Linked DNA regions of Homo sapiens. The protein of the gene in region 1 purifies or fractionates together with the protein of each later gene. This does not show direct contact. Each region holds a gene or a part of one and is shown on either strand. Other genes may lie near its edges. The genes, in order: ZNF687 and ZMYND8.

Region 1 (10,479 bases):
GGGACTCTGGGGACTTCCTGGGGAAGACTTGTCCACTGGCCCCTCATCATCATCTTCTTCCTTCAAGGGCTGACAGACGGGCACTTTGGGGGAGGCAAGAGGGCTCTGGTGCCCTGGAGACTGCTTGAAGAAGGGCACCCCAGCAACTGGGGGAGGCGAGGCACTGGCAGGGATGTCCGTGGCCTTAGGGCTGGAGCCTGAGCCTTGTTGGGCTAGGACCTGGGGATGATGGGGGCTGCAGCTCTCCTGCTTCAAGGCCCCCAATGGTGGGGAAGAAACAGGTGGCTGCATGCCTGGGCCATTCTCCTGGGCCAGCTCAAAGGAAGAGGGGAAAGGAGGCGGGGTCAGAGCCCCCTCCCGAGTGGGAGAGGGTGCAGAGGGAGGCAGCGGATCTGAGTGGTCCCCTGGCTCAGGGCCAAAATGAGCAAACAGGTCCAAGGGAGTTTTGCCTTCCATGCCTTTTTCTTTCCAGGTGCCCCCACTGGGAGGAGCAGGAGAGTGGGGAGTTCCTGGGAGGGAAGGTTCAGGGCTCCCAAAACCATTCTGCATTCGATGAGGCCCCACAGGCCCTTCTTTAGTTACCCCAGCAGCCTGGGCCCCGTCTCCTGCTGAGCCTCCAGCCAGGGCCTCAGACTGCTCGGGACACACAGTGTTCTTGACAATGACACTGACTACAGAAATGTCTGGCGGTGGCAGGCCATGGTCAGAGGCCTGGGCTGGAACTCCAGGGCCATCCCCAGCAGAGGCTGCTGCTGTGTCTTCAGATTCACTTCCTACACCTGGTTCTGGCTTCCCTGGGCCTCCAGGCCCCTCATTTTCTTCTGGCCCAGAATGGATGGCTTCATTCGCATCAATGTCAGGGATGTCAAAGGCAGCAAGGAGGTCATCAAAATCAGGGGTCTTCATATCCCCCATATCGGCAGATCCCAGACCTGATGAAAACAGGAACGAGGAGGAGAAACTGAGATGTCTAGAAGAGAGATCCTGGAGCTCTTCCCTCAGCATCTCCATATTTATCCTCTCTCAGAACCCACATACACTCCAACTTAGGTACACCTCCGCCACGGCATGAATCCTACAGAGCTGCTAGGTTTGCCAAACCTTAAAATCAGAAGAGGATTAGTGTCCATACCTTGGTGGGCTCCAAAATCCAGAGAAAGCAGGGGAAAAGAGAGTTCTTAGAAATACAGGGAAGGGGCCAGGTGCGGTGGCTCATGCTTGTAATCCCAGCGTTTTGGGAGGCTGAGGCAGATGGATCACTTGAGGTCAGGAGTTTGAGACCAGCTTGGCCAACATGGTGAAACCTTGTCTCTACTAAAAATACAAAAAACTAGACAGGTGTGGTGGCACATGCCTGTAATCGCAGCTACAAAGGAGGCTGAGGCAGGAGAATCGCCTGAACCCATGAGGTTGAGGTTTCAATGAGCCAAGATCACGCCACTGCACTCCAGCCTGGACAGAGCGAGACCCTGTCTCAAAAAAAAGAAATATAGGGGGCTGGGCATGGTGGCTCACGCCTGTAATCCCAGCACTTGGGGAGGCAGAGGCGGGCGGATCACGAGGTCAGGAGATCAAGACCATCCTGGCCAAGATAGTGAAACCCCGTCTCTACTAAAAATACAAAAATTAGCTGGGCATGGCAGCACACACCTGTAGTCCCAGCTACTCGGGAGGCTGAGGCAGAAGAATTGCTTGAACCTGGGAGGTGGAGTTTGCAGTGAGCTGAGATCGTGCCACTGCACTCCCACCTGGGCGACAGAGCAAGACTGTCTCAGAAAAAAAAAAAAAATACAGGGAACAGGGAAGGGTAATAGAGCTCAGTGAGCATTCTGGTGGAAACCATCTCATCCCCTCCGGTCCCCAGCATAGAACCAAATAATCAATACTATTATTAAGGAGGATGATGTACATGATGTTCTAGGTTTAAGGACTCATTCATGTCCGCATGGAATCAATTCATATTCTTCACGGATCTTCTGGGGTCCACACAGATCTGAAAGGCTGCATGTACAAAGGGACAATGCCATAAGCCAAGACTTAAGAAATGATCCTCGTTCAGCTTTATCAGGGGCGTGCAGTACAAGCAAGTTTCTTCAGTGCCTTACTTTTGCTGTTTGAAAGAGGACACAAATGGCCGGGTGTGGTGGCTCACATCTGTAATCCCAGCACTTTGGGAGGCCAATCACTTGGGCCCAGGAGTTCAAGACCACCCTGGGCAACATGGTGAAACTCCCCAGGCATGATGGCACGTGCCTGTAGTCCCAGCTATGCCTCCCAGCTGACATGGGAGGATCCCCTGAGCCCGGGAGGTCGAGGCTGTGATGGGCCATGATCATGCCACTGCACTCCAGCCTGGGTGACAGAGTGATACCGTCTCAAAAAAAAAAAAAAAAAAAAAAAAAAAGACAAGACAAGGCAGAGAGCACAAGTGATCTATGTATCATAGGGTTATTCTGAGCATAATACAAAATTGCTAATGTAAGAATCCCACCAAGAATACGATTTACTATTCCAGATGAACCAAGCAAGGACATGTCAGGTCAAGGAGGAACTGGAAAGGAATAAGCACTGGAACTCTAGGGCTGGGGTCGGAGGCAAGAGTCAGGGGTCATGCAGGATCAAGTCTAGGGCACCTGGGCCATCACTGGCACCTGGAGATCTAGCTTGGTCAGCAGGGAGAAAAGGACTCAAGGAAATTACCCAAGAGACCAAGATGGAAAGAATAAGACACAGGAACAGAAAGAGACAAAGAGAAGAGACAGAGGGGAAAATGGTGATGGCAGCCTGGTCACAAGGGCCCCAGCCTAGACCTCTCCTGTCACAAACACCTGCTGCTCGCTCACTACCTTCCCCAGAGTGCCTGGCCCTCCCCTAGCCAGCCCTTCCTTCTCCACCCCTCCCCATCTTGCTTTCCCGAGGCTAAAACTCCCAAGATACATACACATTTCTCCAGCACAGCTGCCACAGTGGGAAAAAGCCAGGCTCCCTCAACCCTCACCCATCATTTCTGCTCCAAGCTCCTCACCCCATTCCATCCCCTAACTTTAACTCCTCACCCTTTCCATTTTCCTGTGGCAACAGTAGCCCAGGAAGTTTCACCTAGCCTCAACCTGGCCAAGTGCAAAAAATAAAATTAAAAATCCCACAAGAATTATGTGGCACTAATCCAACAAGCAGGCCAGCTCAGAGTTTGTGGGAGACCCAGGTCTGTCCCCTACCAGTGTCTCCCCATGAGTGTTTCTGTATCTACGAAGAAGCAACTAAAGAGTCTATCCCTATCCATTCCCTGCCCAGGTTGCAGGCCATTTCCCAGCCAGCTCTCCCACCTCTCTCCAGTCTTCAGACTGTAACTAGAGACAGTCCCAGCAAGTGGCAGCTGGGATTGCTGGGACCAAGGTTGGGGTGGGGGCAAAACCAAAGGGGGAGTCCTCCCCTCACCCCCACCCTATTCAATTCTGCAGAATCTGGGTTTAAACAAAAACCCTTGTCTCTATAGGCCTGGCTCCTAAGCCTGGTTCCCTCCTGACCAGAGGCCTGAGCTACCTTCCACTCAGGTACTCAGAAAAGTGGACTGCTACAACGAAGACCAGCGGGGACTAGGAGAAAACACCTGCGAACTCACCCGCCCCCACACCCCGCCAGCCACCTCCCTCTTGGGTGCCCCAGTGACTTAGAGGTCATCCGATGGCCACCCACCCAGAGCAGACAGTCGACCAAGCAAGCCGCCAAGCTCAAGCCAAGGAGGATCAGGCCTTCCTGCGACTGCTGAGCCCTGTCTCTAGGGCTCCTATCTCCCCCGCCCCCTTTCCCTCTGTGGTTCCCCAAAAGCCAAAGAGGCTGAACAGGAAGAGGCTGAACAGGCCCAGGTCGAGTGGGGGCTCCACTGACCTTTGCCCGGGCCCAAGGCCTGCAGCGCAGAGGAGGGCGAGGGGCTGGCGGCGATTAGGTTGAGGCCAAGCTGGGTAGCAGACGGAATTAAGTCCCTGCCATCTGCCGAGGGCTGGCGCGGGGAGCAAGTCCTGGGTTTCGAGGAGGGGGCGGGGTGTACACATGAGAAACTACAAGGGAAACTGAGGCGCGCGGCCCTTCTCTCACTCGCACCGGCGTGCGAAGCGAAGGCCGGGCCTCAGCCAGGCCAGGCCCTTTGGGAGCTGCTGCGCAGCACCTGGGGACCCAGGACTACACAGGATAGGGTGGGGAGCTGGAAAGAGGGGAGGAGAGAGGGGACGGTCTCTGCGCGACTCTCAGCTCTCTAGCTGGGGTCCGTCCCAACTCGGACCTCGTCCCCTCCCCTCCGGGCGCAGCGGAGCCTCCTCCCGCCGCGCACTCCCGGAGGCTCGCTAGAGACTGGAGACTGATCGGGGGGTGCGCAGGGGGCCGGGGGCGCAAGCCTGAGTCTTGCCCGGGCCCGGACGCTGACCCGCACCCAGTCGGGGTGCAGGTTCTGCTCCGGCCTGGCCCAGGTCCCCCGCCCCCATCCCCGGGAACGGACACCATTTTAGGTCGCGACATCCCGCAGCCTTCAATCTCCGGGCCGCACTTCGGGTGCCTCTCGAGCCGGGGGCGCCAGGACCTGGGGTTCTCGACCCTCCTGGGGGTTTACCCGGCTACGGACTGTGCTTACAACAGGCCAGGAGTTTCGCCCATCCGCCCCAATGGATGGAGGCGGTGTCTGGGCCTTCCTAGAAGCCGCCCCAGGGGGCGGCGCGGAGAAGGGGGTAGTTGACCAAGTGGGGGAGGGGCGGGGGTATTTACCCGCCCCCCCCAAGGGGGCGGAGCCAAGGGCGGGTATTTACCCCAGGCACGCTTACTTGTTCCGCTCCTGGTGCGGGCCGAGACCCGGCGGTCTCTACCCCGCTCCAGCCGCTGCAGCCACCGCCGCCCTCCCCGCGGCCGCCGCTACTTCCTGCTTCTCTCCGGTTCGGCCTCCCCACTCCCTCTCCTCCCTCCGCGCTCCAGGTCTGGGCTGCCCGTTTTCGCACTCGCCATTGGCCCTTGCCCCCGTCGCTCAGCCCTGTGCCCCTTCCAGCCCCGCACTGGGTTGGCCCTAAATACTGCCGCTCGGAACTAGCCCCGCACAGTCCTCTTATGCTCATTGGGCAAGGGGCCGAGGCCCTCTGAAGATACCTCTCCCCATTGGCTGCGCCGGGGTCCGTCTGCCCCATCTACGAGTCTCGTAAACGATTGGCCTCCGCCACTGTCGCTTAGAAAGAAGCCAGCCTGCTTCCCAGCTTGCCTACTGGAAGGGGGAGCACCCAGGTGCGTCTCCGCCCCTCGCTCCCTACTGGCCGCTCGAAGCTTGAAGCTGCAGTTCACTTTCGCGAATGTAAGGAACCCAGCTTCTGTGTGGTGGGCACTGAGAGCAGAACCGCATTGAGTCGGAGTGGAGCACAGAAGTGTAGGTCCTTTTGCGCTGTTTCAAGCTAAACCCGTGTCACTGATGCCGTACAGAAGTTACAGAATGGGACGCCACCCCAAACATTACGTCATCCGCTGACCATTTCCTTGCGGTCTTCCCACCGTCTAAATCGCCATATAATCTGATGGATGGGGTCCTCGCGCGGTTCAGCTCCTGGGCGACAGCGTAACCCGTCGCTCCTCCCTCTGCGGGAGGGCGTGGACGGGGCACGGGATTTGGAGCATGGAAGGAATCGGGACCTAAAGGTTGGGAAGGGCTCGCGGACCGGAAGCGGGGGAGGTGACGTAGGAGTGCTGGCGTGGCCGGGCCATTTCCAAAGAGGCATTAAAGGAGCAACTGATAGGCGTCCTAAGTATGGGCTGGGGGGGGAACCGCCAGCTCCATTTCCCATTTAAGGGCTCCCCTTTTCCCCGCCCCCAGCATGGAGTGGGGGTGGGGTCAAGGTCGAGTTTTCCCGCGCTTTGTTGCCACGCCCCCTGGAGGCGGGGGAAAGGGAGGAGTCGCTCGGAAAATGAATCTCCTTGATGCTCTAATAGCACTCACTGGCAGAATTCGTATGCAAGCCCAGTGTGCCACCTCGCGCACGCAGCCGCTCGTTAACGGCGTGTTTTTATTTTTTAATTAATTTTTTTGAGGCAGAGCCTCACTCTGCTGCCCAGGCGGGAGCACAGTGGCGCGATCACGGCTGACTGCAGCCTCAACCTCCCAGGCTCCAGTGATCCTCCCGCCTCAGCCTCCTGAGTAGCTGGGACTACAAGTGAGCGCCAAATCGCCCTGCTAACTTTTTTATTTTTTGAAGAGACAGGGTTTTGCCATGTTGCCCAGGCTGGTCTCAAGCAATCCTACAGACGTGAGCCACTACTCCCTACCTTGGCGAAGTTTTTTATTTTTTATTTTTTGAAACGGGGCCTCATTCTGTCGTCCAGACTGGAGTGCAGTGGCGGGATCTCGGCTCACGGCAACCTCCGTCTCCCAGGCTCAAGCAATTCTCCTGCCTCAGCCTTCCGACCAGCTGGGATTACAGGTGTGCGACACTACCCGCCCGGCTAATTTTTGTTTTTTTCTTTTTTTTTTTTTTTTGAGACGGAGTCTCGCTGTGTCGCCCAGGCTGGAGTGCAGTGGCGCGATCTCGGCTCACTGCAAGCTCCGCCTCCCGGGTTCACGCCATTCTCCTGCCTCAGCCTCCCGAGTAGCTGGGACTGCAGGCGCTCTCCACAATGCCCGGCTAATTTTTTGTGTTTTTAGTAGAGACGGGGTTTCACCGTGTTAGCCAGGATAGTCTTGATCTCCTGACCTCGTGATCCGCCCGCCTCGGCCTCCCAAAGTGCTGGGATTACAGGCATGAGCCACCGCGGCCGGCCATTTTTGTATTTTTAGTAGAGACGGGGTTTCACCGCATTGGCCAGGCTGGTCTCGAACTCCTGACCTCAAATCATCCATCCGCCTTGGCCTCCCAAAGTGCTGGGATTACAGATGTGACCCACCGGGCCCGGCAAAGTTTTTAAAAGTGGTTTCGTTACCCTGCCCAGGAGTCCCAGGACACCGGAACCAGGACTCCCCGGCGCACCCGGAGAGTTTCCGAGCTCCTTTGAAGTATGAATCAGAACTTCTGGATGGGAATCCTGGAGCCACCACTTGCCCTATGGTCGCAATGGGCAAGTCGCTCAACCTCCCAGATCCTGTTTTCTCATGAGTAAAACGGGGATTATAATACCCACCTGACAATATTATTTTTGTGAGAATTAAATGAGTTTAGAATGTAAACACGCTTTGTAAAGTAATTGGCAGTTGGGATTAGTGTGCCCTTTCTCCCGGAGCCTTGCATCCTGTGCATTTGCTCAGGTGCTGTTCCTTCTCTGAGCAACTAATTAAAGGTCCCTAACCCGATGTAACCAACCGGCATTCCATTTCCACCTCCTCTTCTGGTCTCCCTATGCGGAATAACAATTACTACTCATATACACATAATATTTTGGGGGGCTCACGCCTGTAATCCCAGCACTTTGAGAAGTCTAGGTGGGTAGCTCACTTGAGCCCTGGAGTTCGAGACTAGCCTGTGCAACACAGCAGGACTCTGCCTCTACAGAATATTTGGAAAAAAAAATTAGCCAGGGGTGTTGGCAGGCACCTGTGATCCCAGCTACTGGGGAGGCTGGGATGGAAGGATCGCTTGAGTCCAGGAAGTCAAAACTACAGTGAGCCGGGATCGCACCACTGCACTCCAACCTGGGAGACAGAGCGAGACTCTGTCTCAAAAAAAAAAAAAAAAAAAACACACACACACAGAAAAACTTTATTTATTTTATTAATAAACATATTATTAATAACTCACGTAGTCCTTACCACAACCATGGAAGGAGGTACTATTTCAGGTACTGGAGATGTAGCAATGAACAAAGCAGACAAGAAGCCCTGTCATGAAACACACATTCCTAAAGAGAAGACAAACAATAAATATTAGAAATGGTAGCTGCCAAGGAATAAAATAGAGTTATCAAGCCATGCAAAGACAGAGGAATCTTCGATGCATATGACTAAGTGAAAGAAGCCAATCTGAAAAGGTTGCATGCTGTATGATTCCAGCTATGTGACATTCTAGAAAAGGCAAAACTATAGAGAGTAAAAAGATCAGTGGTTGGTTGCTGAGGGTTCAGGTGGAGGGAGAGAGATGAATAAATAAATGGAGCACAGGGGACTCTTACAACACTGAAACTATTCTATGTGATACTGTAATAGTGGATACATGTGTCAACAGCCATGGAATGTACAACACAAAGAGTGAACCCTGTGAGCATGGTGGCTCACACATGTAATCCCTGAACTTTGGGAGGCCAAAGCGGGAGGATCAACAAAAAATTTGAAAAATTAGCCGCGTACAGTGGCGCACACCTGTAGTCCCAACTACTCAAGTGGCTGAAGCAGGAGAGTCCCTTGAGCCCAGAAGTTTGAGGCTGCAGTGAGCTACGATCCTGCTGCCGCACTCCAGCCTGGGCAACAAAGTGAGACCCTGTCTCTTAATAATAATGTTTCCATATTGGTTCATCAATTGTAACAAATGTACCACACTAATGCGAGATATTAATAAATAATAGAGTAACCTGAGCAACATGGAGAGACCCCATCTCTACAAAAAAACTTTTTTTTAAGTAGCGTGGCATGGTGGTGCACACCTGTGGTCCCAGCTACTTGGGAGGCTGAGGAGGGAGAATCACCTGAGCCCTGGAGGTCAAGGTTGCAGTGAGCTGTAATCACACCACTACACCCCAGCCTGGGCAAAAGACCAAGACCTTGTCTCAAAATAATAATAATAATAGGGGAAACTGGAGAGAGAGGATGTGTGGGAACTCGCATTTTGTGCTCAATTTTTCTGTAAACCTAAAAATGCTGTAAAAAATAAAGTGTATTAATTTAAAAACAAAAACAATTTAAAAAAAAAAACAAAGCAGGCGGCTGGGCGCAGTGGCTCATGCCTGTAATCCCAGCACTTTGGGAGGCCGAGGCGGGTGGACCATGAGGTCAGGAGATCAAGACCATTCTGGCTAACATGGTGAAACCCTGTCTCTACTAAAAATACAAAAAATTAGCTGGTCATGGTGGCACACGCCTATAGTCCCAGCTACTTGGGAGGCTGAGGCAGGAGAATCGCTTGAACCCGGGAGGCAGAAGTTGCATTGAGCCGAGATCGCACCACCACACTCCAGCCTGGGTGACAGAGCAAGACTCTGTCTCAAAAAAACAAAAACAAAAGCAAGGAAAGATGACAGTAAGTGTGGGAGGGTTGCAATTTTAGGTAGGGTGGACAGTAAAGGCCTTTTCGAGAAGATGGTGGTTAAGTAAAGGTCTGAAAGAGATGAGGGAGTGAGCCATGCAGCTATCTGGGACAAGAACATTCCAGGAGGAAAGAACAAGTACAAGGTCCTCAGGAGGGGAGTGTGTTCCAGAGGGGGTGGGAGGAGTGAATTGGGTCATGGGATGCTTTGGAAGCTATGGGAAGGTCTTTGGCATTTTCTCACGGTGGGTTAGAAAGCCATCAAAAGGAGACAGATGACATGGTGGCCTGACTTAAACGTTTTAAAAGGGTTGAAAGTGGGGTGTGGAAGAAAGAAAAAGACTCCAAAGCATGGAGGCTGAGGAAGTAGAAGCATGATGTTGCCCCATTTCTTGAGCTGAGAAGACTACAGGAGATGCAGGTTTTAGGGGTTAGGTCGGTAGCTCAGTTTTAGTCATGTTGAGGTATTACACATCCAAGTGGAGATACAAATGTAGGTGTCATCAGCTTATAGATAGTATTTAAAACCCAGGTCAGAATGGATGAGATCACCAAGGGAGGATTGAGGCATGGGAAACTCCGAAGTTAAAAGGTCAAGGAGATGAGAAGAACAGCAAAGAGGAAGGAAGGAACCAGGAGAGTGTTGTAACCTTCAAGCTAAATTTAAAAAGTATCTCAAGAAAGAGGAAGAGAGAATGATAGTCAGATGCCACTAAAATATCAAATAGGATGAAACCTGAGAATTGACCAATGGATTAAGGCAAAATGGAGGTCACTGGTGATCATGATGAGGAGAGAGTTGATGGACTGGTGGGGACAAAAGCCTTCATGGAATGGGTTTACAAGAATGGAGGAGGAAAAAAGAAAAGTCACTATAAAACTCTTTCAAAGGAAGGAAGGAGAAAAAAGATGGTAACTAGAGGAAAAAGAGTGACCAAGAGGACTATTTCTTTTAATGGTTACATTTTTTTCTCATCAGGTTCTACTGACCCAAGGAAAGGACTGTTTGAAGATGAAGAAGTTGTATGTCAGTACACGGGTGGGGAGGATCCTGTAGACAGGAAAAACCGAAGTTGTAGCAGAGCGATAGGGAAAGTTTCTGGAGTCATGTTCTTCAGAAGGTGAGCGAGAGGGTCAAGTTCACAAACAGAGGAATTGCCTTACACAGGGGCAGGGACAGTTCCCGAATAATAATTGGGAGAGAAGGCAGAGTGAGCGGGCATGGGTCGAGGGAGCTGGGGAGCTGTGGGATATCTCTTTGTTGCTTCTGTTGTCCAGTGGTATAAGAAAC
Region 2 (9,739 bases), on another chromosome or scaffold:
TAGAGATGGGGTTTCACCGTGTTGCCCAGGCTGGTCTCGAACTCCTGAGCTCAGACAATCCACCCGCCTCGCCCTCCCAAAGTGCTAAGATTACAGGCGTGAGCCAACGCACTCTGTCCACTTTTTTTTTTTTAATAGAGATGGGGGCGGGAGGGGGGGGTCTCGTTAAGTTGCCCAGGCTGGTTTCAAACTCCTGGCCTCAACTGATCCTCCCACTTCAGTCTCTCAAGTAGCTGGGATGATTGGCATGCGCCACTGTGCCTGACCCCAATCCACGTTTTTGAAGCGCATTCTGGCTGCTGAAGGGTGAGGATGGGAGTAGGAGAAAAGAGAGAAAGAGACAATGGTCACTCAGCTTGGTCATGCTTGGATAGAATCTAATCCAACACCCCACTTCACAAATACAAAAATGAAGGGACAGAGCCAGTGTCCAAGCCCCCTGGGGAAGGTAAGCAGCAGAACAGGGACAAGACCCCCACCCTCCTGGCCCCCTCTCTTCAGTCCCTCTCCACTTTGCCCCGTCTCCTGCTGGACCACATTTGATTCTGACCACAACAAGGGGGCTGAGAAGTGGCTGAGAGGCACGTGCTCCTGCAACATCAAAAACACCTCTGTGAGAAGGTACCTTCCTTGCTCTGAAGTCCCTGGTGGCTCAGCTCTCTTCACCATCAATGGCACTGAAACTTCCTGCCACCCAGCACAGGCTGGGTCATGCTGTGATGAGGGGGCAGCAGCCCTCTGCCTCCGCCCAGCCTCCTCCTGCTGCTCCCCAGCACACAGCACCCACCCAGTAAGCCAGGCCTTCCCACCCAGGGTGCCTCCCCTTCTGTGACCCCTGCCAGAGATCAGCAGCCAGCTTCTGCTTCCCAGGTCCCAGCCTTGACTACTGGACCCTCAACTTTGCCCCAAAATGACATACTGTCTTTTTTTTTTTGAGATGGAGTCTTGCTCTGTCGCCCAGGCTGGAGTGCAGTGGTGCGATCTCAGCTCACTGCAACCTCCGCCTCCCAGGTTCAAGTGATTCTCCTGCCTCAACCTCCTAAGTAGCTAGGATTACAGGCGCGTGCCACCATGCCCGACTAATTTTTGTATTTTTAGTAGAGACGGGGGTTTCACCATGTTGGCCAGGCTGGTCTCGAACGCCTGACCTCGTGATGGTCCGCCTTGGCCTCCCAAAGTGCTGGGATTACAGGCATGAGCCACCACGCCTGGCGACACGCTGTCTTGTAACAATCCTCAAAATGCTTTTGGTTTCAGACGCCTTTAGGGAGTCACTTTGTGCGACACTCTGCAGCCAAATGAGAATCTCCTTCCGGCAGTATGCAGTAACCCTGTCCAGCCTCTTCCTCCCTCCCCATAACCCCCAGTGCAAGGCTGTGTGTTCCAAGAAAGCACTCAGTGACTTGTTGAAGGAATGAAAACACCTTGGTACAACCATTAAGTTTGGAGATGAGCCTTTTCATCAACCAAAGATACGAAAAATACTCCAGTAGCTCATTTGTGAAAGCACCCTGAAGGTAAAAGTGAATAACTGCTTCATTTTGGGAAGCCTCATAAAATCTCTTTCACAAAGACCAAATGAAAAGTACCAATCCCTCAATTAGAAGATATTCAGGAGTCTACTCCAGGCTTGTGAATAAACGCATAAATTGTGTTTGTCCTAATTTGCTAAATTTTGAACTAAATGCAAACACTGGCCCCGGCATCCCAGCAAGCTCTACATTTCCTTTTTATCTCTAACCCAAGACCACCACTTTCCAGTGAAGCGGGCTGACTTCATCCCACTTCTGGGATTCCAAAGAGGTCTGTTGTTAAAATCAGAAAACGAGCAGCAGCTAGAGGCTCTGGTGGCTTCCAGAACATGCTTTATTTAAACTGTGGCTCCTGAAAGTCACCCTGCGGAGAGGTAGCCAGCCACCCTCAGTCATGACACACAGGTAAAATTCACTGTCAGGACCCCTACACAGGCACCAGGGAAAGAAAACCAAAAGGAGGAGAGTTCTCCATCAATTAGGTTCATCCATCAAAAAATCTTATATCTGAAAATCCAAGAAGAGTTACAACGTCGGCTCAGAGAGCCACACACTTCACTGCACTACAACAACAAAAAGAAATTCCAATTTCCTCCTTAGCTCTAGAATAGATAATACAAGATTTTTACTCACCTTTGGAGCGAGTAGAGATATCCATGCCCTCTACCACCTCCTGTTCTGTTTTTATTTCCTCTTCAGCCAAGCTGAAACAGAGCAAATTATGTTCATGTTTAGGAAGGCTGAGAACTTGCCCCATGGGGGCAGCTATTTGGAAGTTCTAGCAACAAACACACCTTAAAGACATTCCCTCATCCTTATCCAGGGCTGGGGGAGGAAACCCACACCTGATTTCAACAAAGTGTGAAGAGTCCTAAAGGAGTTTTTTAAAACACTAGGTTGTTCTTTTTTTTTTTAAGTCAAATTACTATTCCAGTTGTCATGCTATTGGGGAATGCAAAAGGCAATTTTTTAGACACACAATTACAACCTACCCCTGTGGGCCAATGAGAACCCAGCCTTCAAATAAACAAGCTTCTCATTGTTAACACAGGGTTCAAAGGCAGGGAGGTTGGAGGTGTTTTGCAGGGTATCCAGAATTCTGATCGCTGAATACTTTAGGGCAAAGAGTAAGATTTCCCACACCTCCCCCTAAATCTTACAATTCCCTGATGAGGCAGGAACATGGGAAAAAAAAGATACAGGTTAAATTACAAAGCAGAAAAATATGCCCAGCTAGAAGCTAAAGACCTGGTCTCAAAACACTGAACCGAGGAGCACTGATTCCAGCAATCAGACTGGGGTCTCCACACTTCCAACCCCCTGAATGCTTCCTCTCTACAGCAGGCACGGCTTACTACTGAGTTGTGACTAATTATCCCCCACCACAAAAGTGGAATGAGGAAGGATTATTCAAAAGACAAAGGCTAAGAGTGGAGGGTTGGGGAGAGAAGCAAATAAAGCAAGCCCCTTTGCTGGGAGGGTCCGTCACCCAGAACATTCTCTCTCTCTCTCTGCTGGAACTAGGGTTGAAAGAGAGCCGGCCATATCAGATCTTCCTCCCACAGAGAACTCACAAGCTAAACCAAAGGGAAAAAATAGAGTTCTGCTTTCATAGATGCAAATGGTTTGAGGTGCTAGAACTTTCCAAACATTCAGGCTGACACTGAAGTGGTAAGAAGCTGGGCATTTACTCCAGAAGCAATTCCATCAGACTGTCGTTCCACAGGAAGAAATGGGTGCATCACCAATTGATATGGCTGGAATTTTCCATTTGGAAGACTCAACGCCAGGACAGGAAGGAGGCTGGGGAAGAGAGAATGTCCTGTCCTGGGGAAGAGAGAATGTTCCGTGGTCTGGGACTGTGACAACGCAAAAGGCCCAAAAAGACAGCCTCATGTCTCGAACCCTAGTATAAGGAGAAGATTTTAGGAGAGTTCCACGTTAGGAGGAGAGGACTTAGGATGGGAGCTAGATAGAATGGAAAAGATTATAGTTCAGAGTTAAATTATAGGGGCTTGGAGACGAAGAAAGGTAGTTGGGTTTAAATGAGAATATTAACACATTTAGCCATCTGATTTTGAACCCCGTTAACAATTTCATTTACACCGCATCTGTAAAGAAAGCCTGTGACACAAATCACCAAAGAAACAACTGACATGTTGTCACAAATGGTTTTCATCAGGAGAAAGCAGCCTGCTAAATTTAAACACATCGCTTATATGCAATAATACAACGGTGATTTATTGAAGGTTATTTCAGCACTAATGCTTTCTATTCCAACTTAAGGAGAAAACATTCTCAACTCAGAAACACTCTGCCTGAAACATACACAGGTTGTCCAACTGGATGCTGTTGATGGGTTCTGGCTTGGGGTGACTGGAAATACATCTTAACAAAAAGCCCCATGCAGCCCTCGGAGATGGGTAGACAGTTAACTTCAAAGGAACAAATAGCAACCTTGATCTTTTCTAGCAACTAGAATTCTGTTTCCCTCTCTAGCATGAAGTATGTGAAATTCTAAACTTCTTGAAACCGATCCCATATTTTGAGTAATAGAGAAAACGCTAATCTGTGATCCAACTGAAATCTACAGTGGTGAGGGAAACAATTATGCAGAACTGAGCCAAAAAAAACCCACTTGAAGGATTTCTGCAGCGATGAAAACATTCAAAGGTGTATTGATCATGGAGGAAGGCTGCATTCAAGGGAACCATTATTTGGCTTGTAACAGCCTAGAGGAGCTGAATACTTCAGGCAGGAATGCTGCTGAGAGACGAGGAAAATGCAAACTAGTTATGTGGTGGCTATTTGCTTCTGAGTTTTAAGATAATCAATGCTGGAGCAGAAGAGAGAGGGAAAAAAAAGTTAAGCTGTTTTATCTTTCCAAGTATTACAAGTGGGCACCATAATCACCCAACTTTAGCAATAGCACCACCAGCTTTAGCACAGCATTTCAAGCACAACAATTTAAGAAAACCATCTTTTTCACAGATCAGCAAACCATCCTTTCAAAAGGAACCCGTGCACACACATGCACGCACACTCACACACACAATTAACTTGTATTTGACTAAAGGAAACTGCAGTGTCTATGCATTAAAAGGAGAAAAAAAAAAAAAAAAAAAAAAAACTTCATTTACAAAAGCAAAGACCAGAATGCAAAATTAGTCATTTTGAATAGCCACATCTAAAGGGACTTCCTTTTTCCTACACCACTGATTTCGGTTTTTTTGTGTGTGTGTGTGTGTTTTTTTTTGATTTAGTGTTAAGAACTAGTATGTTATTAGGAAAAAAAAATGAATATTACATCAAAAGTAGGCGCAAGAAAAGATCTGTACCTGTCTGAATTGCCCCACTGATGTTGGTCAATTTAGGTTAAGAACTGTTCAGTCATTTGGGGGAAAAAAAACAGTCAAATAATTCTTAAAAAGAAAAGGCAGCTGCATCTGGAGAAAATACTCTGAACTTCTGTCATTAACACATTAAAGTCTTAGAACATAGACAGCTTATTTCCTTCCATATCTGCTAGCTTCCAGCAACCCTGATGATTTAAATCAAAAACAATGGGACAACAAGCTCTTGTTTCAAACTGACATTACTTTTTTCCCTTTAAAGGTCTGTTGAGGAAACTGGGGGCCCGCTACAGAAAAGGGTAAAATTAGCTGAAAAGCAAACAATTTCTCACTCCAATAGGAAAATACACCATCAACTAGTTAGATACATTGTATACACCACCACCTCTTACACTCACATTTACCCAAGTCATTTGCCTGCAGATTTCACAAACTGATACATTTGAGGCAATTCAAAGAAATAACAGTACCTGCAAAGATAACCAAGACCACCCCATCCCATCCCAAAAAGAATAAAAGATTTCTCCCCCAGTGCCTGAGCAAGAAAACCTATGCTTACTTCTTAACCTGCATGCACTGAAAAAAGAGCAATTAAAAGTTGCAGATGAACTACTGCACCTCCAGGATGCTTTAAGCCTTCTGATTGTTAATTCTGAGGACTCAGGGATGGTCCGTAATTCCCAGGAATCTCATCTCCTCAACACTTCCAAGAGAGAGAAAAAAGAAAGCATCTAGTTTTGACAGAAAAATGCCTGAATACACAATGCCCACATATTTCTTTTCCCCAAGTGCCCCTACTATTTGACTTTTAAAGAAGAGTATCTAAGCCATCTAGAATATATAACCAACATGCACAAGACTCTGGTTCTACAGATGAGGATCATCGCACAGCAATTCAAGAATCATGCATCATTCGAAAGGACTTTTCCTGGTTTTTACTTTTCATTCAAAATACCAAAATGGTCCAGGCTGTAAGAAATATTTAATCCCCAAGGCATAACATCTTCCTCTTCTAGATTACAAAATAGTGAACATCAAAATTAAAAACCATGCTTCCCTAAATCTACAATTAATTTTTTAAGAAATTGGGGTGGGGGGGAATGGTTAGCAGAGCAGCTTTATATAAGCACTCACCTAAAACAGGCAGAGTCATCGGTAGCTAAGCTATTTATGCAGGATTCTTAAAATGGCGTCTGGCAACACTGCCTCATTCCTGTGTTGAAGCTAAAATGGTAGCAGTTTGTTCAATAGCTGTAGCTCTTGTTTAAGCAGCCCTGCGAGTTTCAAAGCCACCTTCCTAAATACCAGAACTAGGAAAAGCTGAACCAAAGGACACCAACAACCCAACGTTTAGAAGCTTAAAAAAAACTCTGCAATGACAGGGAGAGTTTGTGAAGTCACAGGTTCCTAAGGAAAAGCCTTCTCTTGTAGATCCTGAGCCTTCAACATGAGGCTCTGTGATGAGGCCCCCTTGCCCTCAAATTAGGTGGGTAGAAGGTTAGGAATCGTGCAGCCCCGTGGCACAAACTGCAGACGGACAGGTGTCTGTGCAAACACAAAAATGTTCCCAGGGAGCAGCCTGGGGGAAGGCAAGGAGGAAGCCCGGTCCCCCTTCTCTTCTCAGTCTATTAGAAACCAGCTTTGCATCCATACCAAAAAGGCGCTAGGTAAAATGAAAGTGCTTCAAGGACAGCAGGCATCTGAAAAGCCAAGCTAAAGGGCTGCACCTCAGTCTACGGCAAAGGTAAAATAAAAAGGCTGTTTATAAGCCTGCAAACAGCCACCAAATACCCAGCCCTCTGAAGCAGCCAGTCCTAAGACAGTTAACATCAAGGAAAGACAATCCGAGTCTGCAGAGGAGAAACACAAGGAAAACATTCCCTTATCCAATGCACAGGATACTCACAAATTAGATTTCTGACCACCCCCAACAGAGCCTGAGAATTAACAATGGGTTTTGCAAAACCCGCTTTCAGAGGCCGAACTAACAGCCTGAGTGGATAACGTCATTTACTGTTACAGGTCTGAGCATTGGCCTCAGAACTCCTCTGGTGCTGGGAGTGAGGAGTTTCAAGGTGACTGCTTTTTAGCTCCAGGGGAGAAAGGAGGGCACAGTGCCCAAGGCCATGCCAGGGCAAGGACGGGCCACTGGCCCCCGCCGGCCGGTAGGTAAGGTAATCGGGATGGGGGGGACAGGCTGGCAGCACACTGGCTGCAGAGCTGGCATGGCCACTGCCTGTTTGTTTGTCTGCAAGGAGAGTGGGAAGTAGCGGGGAGGGTGACCATAACCTTAGCAACCTGAAGCCAAGGGTGAACCCTTGCTCAGATCTTGCATTTTAAGAGTAACCAAAGGGTTCTGAAACATATTCCCTTTTTAAATCTCTGCTGTGCAGTAGCGAAGGCCCCTTTGAATGTATCTTTCTTTCCAGAGTCAACCAGAGGCAAAGCCAGATTGAGGGTTCCCAGGCTGACAAATGTCTGCTGCCTCTGCCACAGGAGAGAGAAGGGGAAAGAGGGCAAAAGAAACAAAGACATCACGCGTTGCAAGTGGCTGGACTTTTAAAAACCTACCTTTGCCTCCAGGGTTTTCTAGGTTACTGTCACCCCACTTCCTAAAAAGTGTCTCCCCCCTCATCCTATTTAAGACCTGATGCAGTCTCCCCACTGGTTCTCCCAGGGAAAGAAAAGGGGAAATGTTTTGTTGAAAATAAAAGGGATGACAAGAAAGAAAGGAAAAAAAGCTATTGTTTTCATCCCTAATTTATAATCCAAGAGGCCCCCAATTGTTTCTTTCTGACTCAAATCTTTGAGCTGTTAATTATAAAAGTAACTGGACTTGGCGCCAACGGGCTAACTATGATCAGGCTCAGCAATTAGAAAAACTCTGTAGAAAGTTTACTGAGTGATTATATATAATTAATTCCTAGTTACAGACTGAACACTGACCATTTTCTGGAGCTAATAAAAGCAGTTACTCCCCCTCCCCCACGTGAATGCCACTTAATTTCCCAAAGCAGAAAGTGAATCCATCCTGGAGGGTCTTGAAGGAAAAAAAAGGAGAGGAATCAAAAGCTTCAGTGTGTCTGTGTTTGCTCCTTGCAGCTGTGTATCCTCTTTGGGGACTGAGGAGGCAGAAGGAAAAAGGAAAACAGCCCAACATTCTGTTCCTCCTTCTGCAATTTACAAACGTGGCAGAGAGAACATTCTACCTTGATGAGAAAAAGAAGGGGGGTTGGGGGGAAGCAGGGAAGGGAGATGACCTAGGAATGGAAGGTAGGAGACGCTTCTGCTTGGCAGATCTGCTTTTCCTAAAAGGAACAAAGATGGTAGAAATTTCCAGAAGGCCCGTTCTTAGTTCGGCCACTGCAATTGTCAATCTTTAACCTTTCCTCCAAGTCTATTGGTTTAAAAGCTAGAGTAGAAGAACCCCATTGGGCTGCTCTGGGAGCCAGTACTGCCGTCCCTACCTAGTCCTGCTGCAATGCAGACATTTATTTTTTTCCCCCTTTCCTGAAACTGGAAAATAATGCTACTTTGAAAGCAATTAACTTTTTACAGACTCATGCTTGGTAGGGGTCACAGTACCAGAGGAAAAGTGGCTAGCTTGGTCCAGGGTTGGGAACTTGCTGGGGGCTGTACATTTGAAAACAGATCTTGGCTCTCCAAACCTGTGGGAGCCATTTTAATGCAAGCTTTTAGAGGACAAATGCCTTGCCCTTAAGTTCCCTTCCAGCCCAACAAACACAGTATTATGCAAACGTTGAAGGCACCAAACCAGGAGTCTTATGATTAGATATTGCTTCTAGGGAGGCCACAAGAACCTCGATATGTAATTTCCATTTACAGCAAGGAGATAAGAACAAAGAAAATAGCTGAGTGTCTGAACTTACTTGTTTGGGGCAGTGGCACTGTTCAGTTTTAAGTATATAACATCATTAACTGCCTGCAGTTTTACTCTAAGAAGCTAAGCTGGCCTGCCTTGCACAGACTTTTCTCAACTTAGAATGTGGTACGTTTCTGCTGATTAAATGAGCCTTTTTCCAATTCGGTGTCAGAAAGTGGGCTACTGGACACTCATTTGAAAGAAAAAAGATTACTGACTCCATAAAGTTGACATAACACAGCAATTGAATATATTTCCTGCATTTACGGTCATGTCGGATTGGTCTCCAAGCTGAAAATTTATGTACTGAACTTCTAGGGAAATTCTGAAGGTACTGCTAAACAAGACTCTACTTTTCCCACTTAACTTCTAGCTGCAGCCTTAAGTGGTCAAGGGAAATGTAAAAAGTGAGAAATCTTATGTGGGGCCAGCATGCATACAGATGTGTGGAGGAGACCTGAAAAAAGGCCAAAATGTGTTGGTCAGTGAGTCCTGAATCAAACCCAGTCTGGTGGTAGATGAGATTTTGCACTATACATAAGTCCTAAAACATGAGCACACTGACACCACCCCCCCAACACACACATACCACCACCACCACCAGCTTCTACACCACCAATGTTTTTAGGGCTCTGCACCTCTAAGAACAAGCAGTTTCATGACATTTCACAAGCACATCACCTACTCACAGTTTGAATATCCAAACAAACCCCATTAAAGGTCTAGAGTCAAGTCACAATGAACTGAACATTTCTCCCCTGACTCAGGGTAAACAGGAAGTATAATCTTCAATCCTAGCTGCAGGTTATCAGGAAAAACAGTGGATTCAAACAGTCACCTAAAATCAAGACACTCTTTAAAAAGCCCTTATTTTGTTCCTGCTAATGAAGCCCCCAACTCCTGTAGCCAAGACCCACTATTACAAACAGACCCCAAATGTTCGCAAAACTCTTCAAACATGGTCACAGAGG

The links.
Region 2: the proteins of ZNF687 (region 1) and ZMYND8 purify together in Homo sapiens (affinity purification with mass spectrometry; 4 studies listed by BioGRID and IntAct, with this or other methods). This does not show direct contact.

The regions. Positions count from the first base shown.
Region 1 is NC_000001.11:151,276,728-151,287,206, reverse strand, and holds the start of ZNF687 (zinc finger protein 687), read right to left. Parts: upstream 4,909-10,479; 5' UTR 4,812-4,908; exon of another isoform or gene 4,797-4,811; intron 4,675-4,796; exon of another isoform or gene 4,648-4,674; coding exon of another isoform or gene 4,625-4,647; intron 4,020-4,624; coding exon of another isoform or gene 3,889-4,019; intron 2,002-3,888; exon of another isoform or gene 1,133-2,001; intron 933-1,132; coding exon of another isoform or gene 916-932; coding exon 1-915. UniProt on the Homo sapiens protein: May be involved in transcriptional regulation.
Region 2 is NC_000020.11:47,345,691-47,355,429, forward strand, and holds part of ZMYND8 (MYND-type zinc finger-containing chromatin reader ZMYND8), read right to left. Parts: intron 8,944-9,739; exon of another isoform or gene 7,315-8,943; intron 7,051-7,314; exon of another isoform or gene 6,871-7,050; intron 6,060-6,870; exon of another isoform or gene 6,020-6,059; intron 5,589-6,019; exon of another isoform or gene 5,504-5,588; intron 4,299-5,503; exon of another isoform or gene 4,200-4,298; coding exon of another isoform or gene 4,171-4,199; intron 2,237-4,170; coding exon 2,166-2,236; intron 1-2,165. UniProt on the Homo sapiens protein: Chromatin reader that recognizes dual histone modifications such as histone H3.1 dimethylated at 'Lys-36' and histone H4 acetylated at 'Lys-16' (H3.1K36me2-H4K16ac) and histone H3 methylated at 'Lys-4' and histone H4 acetylated at 'Lys-14' (H3K4me1-H3K14ac).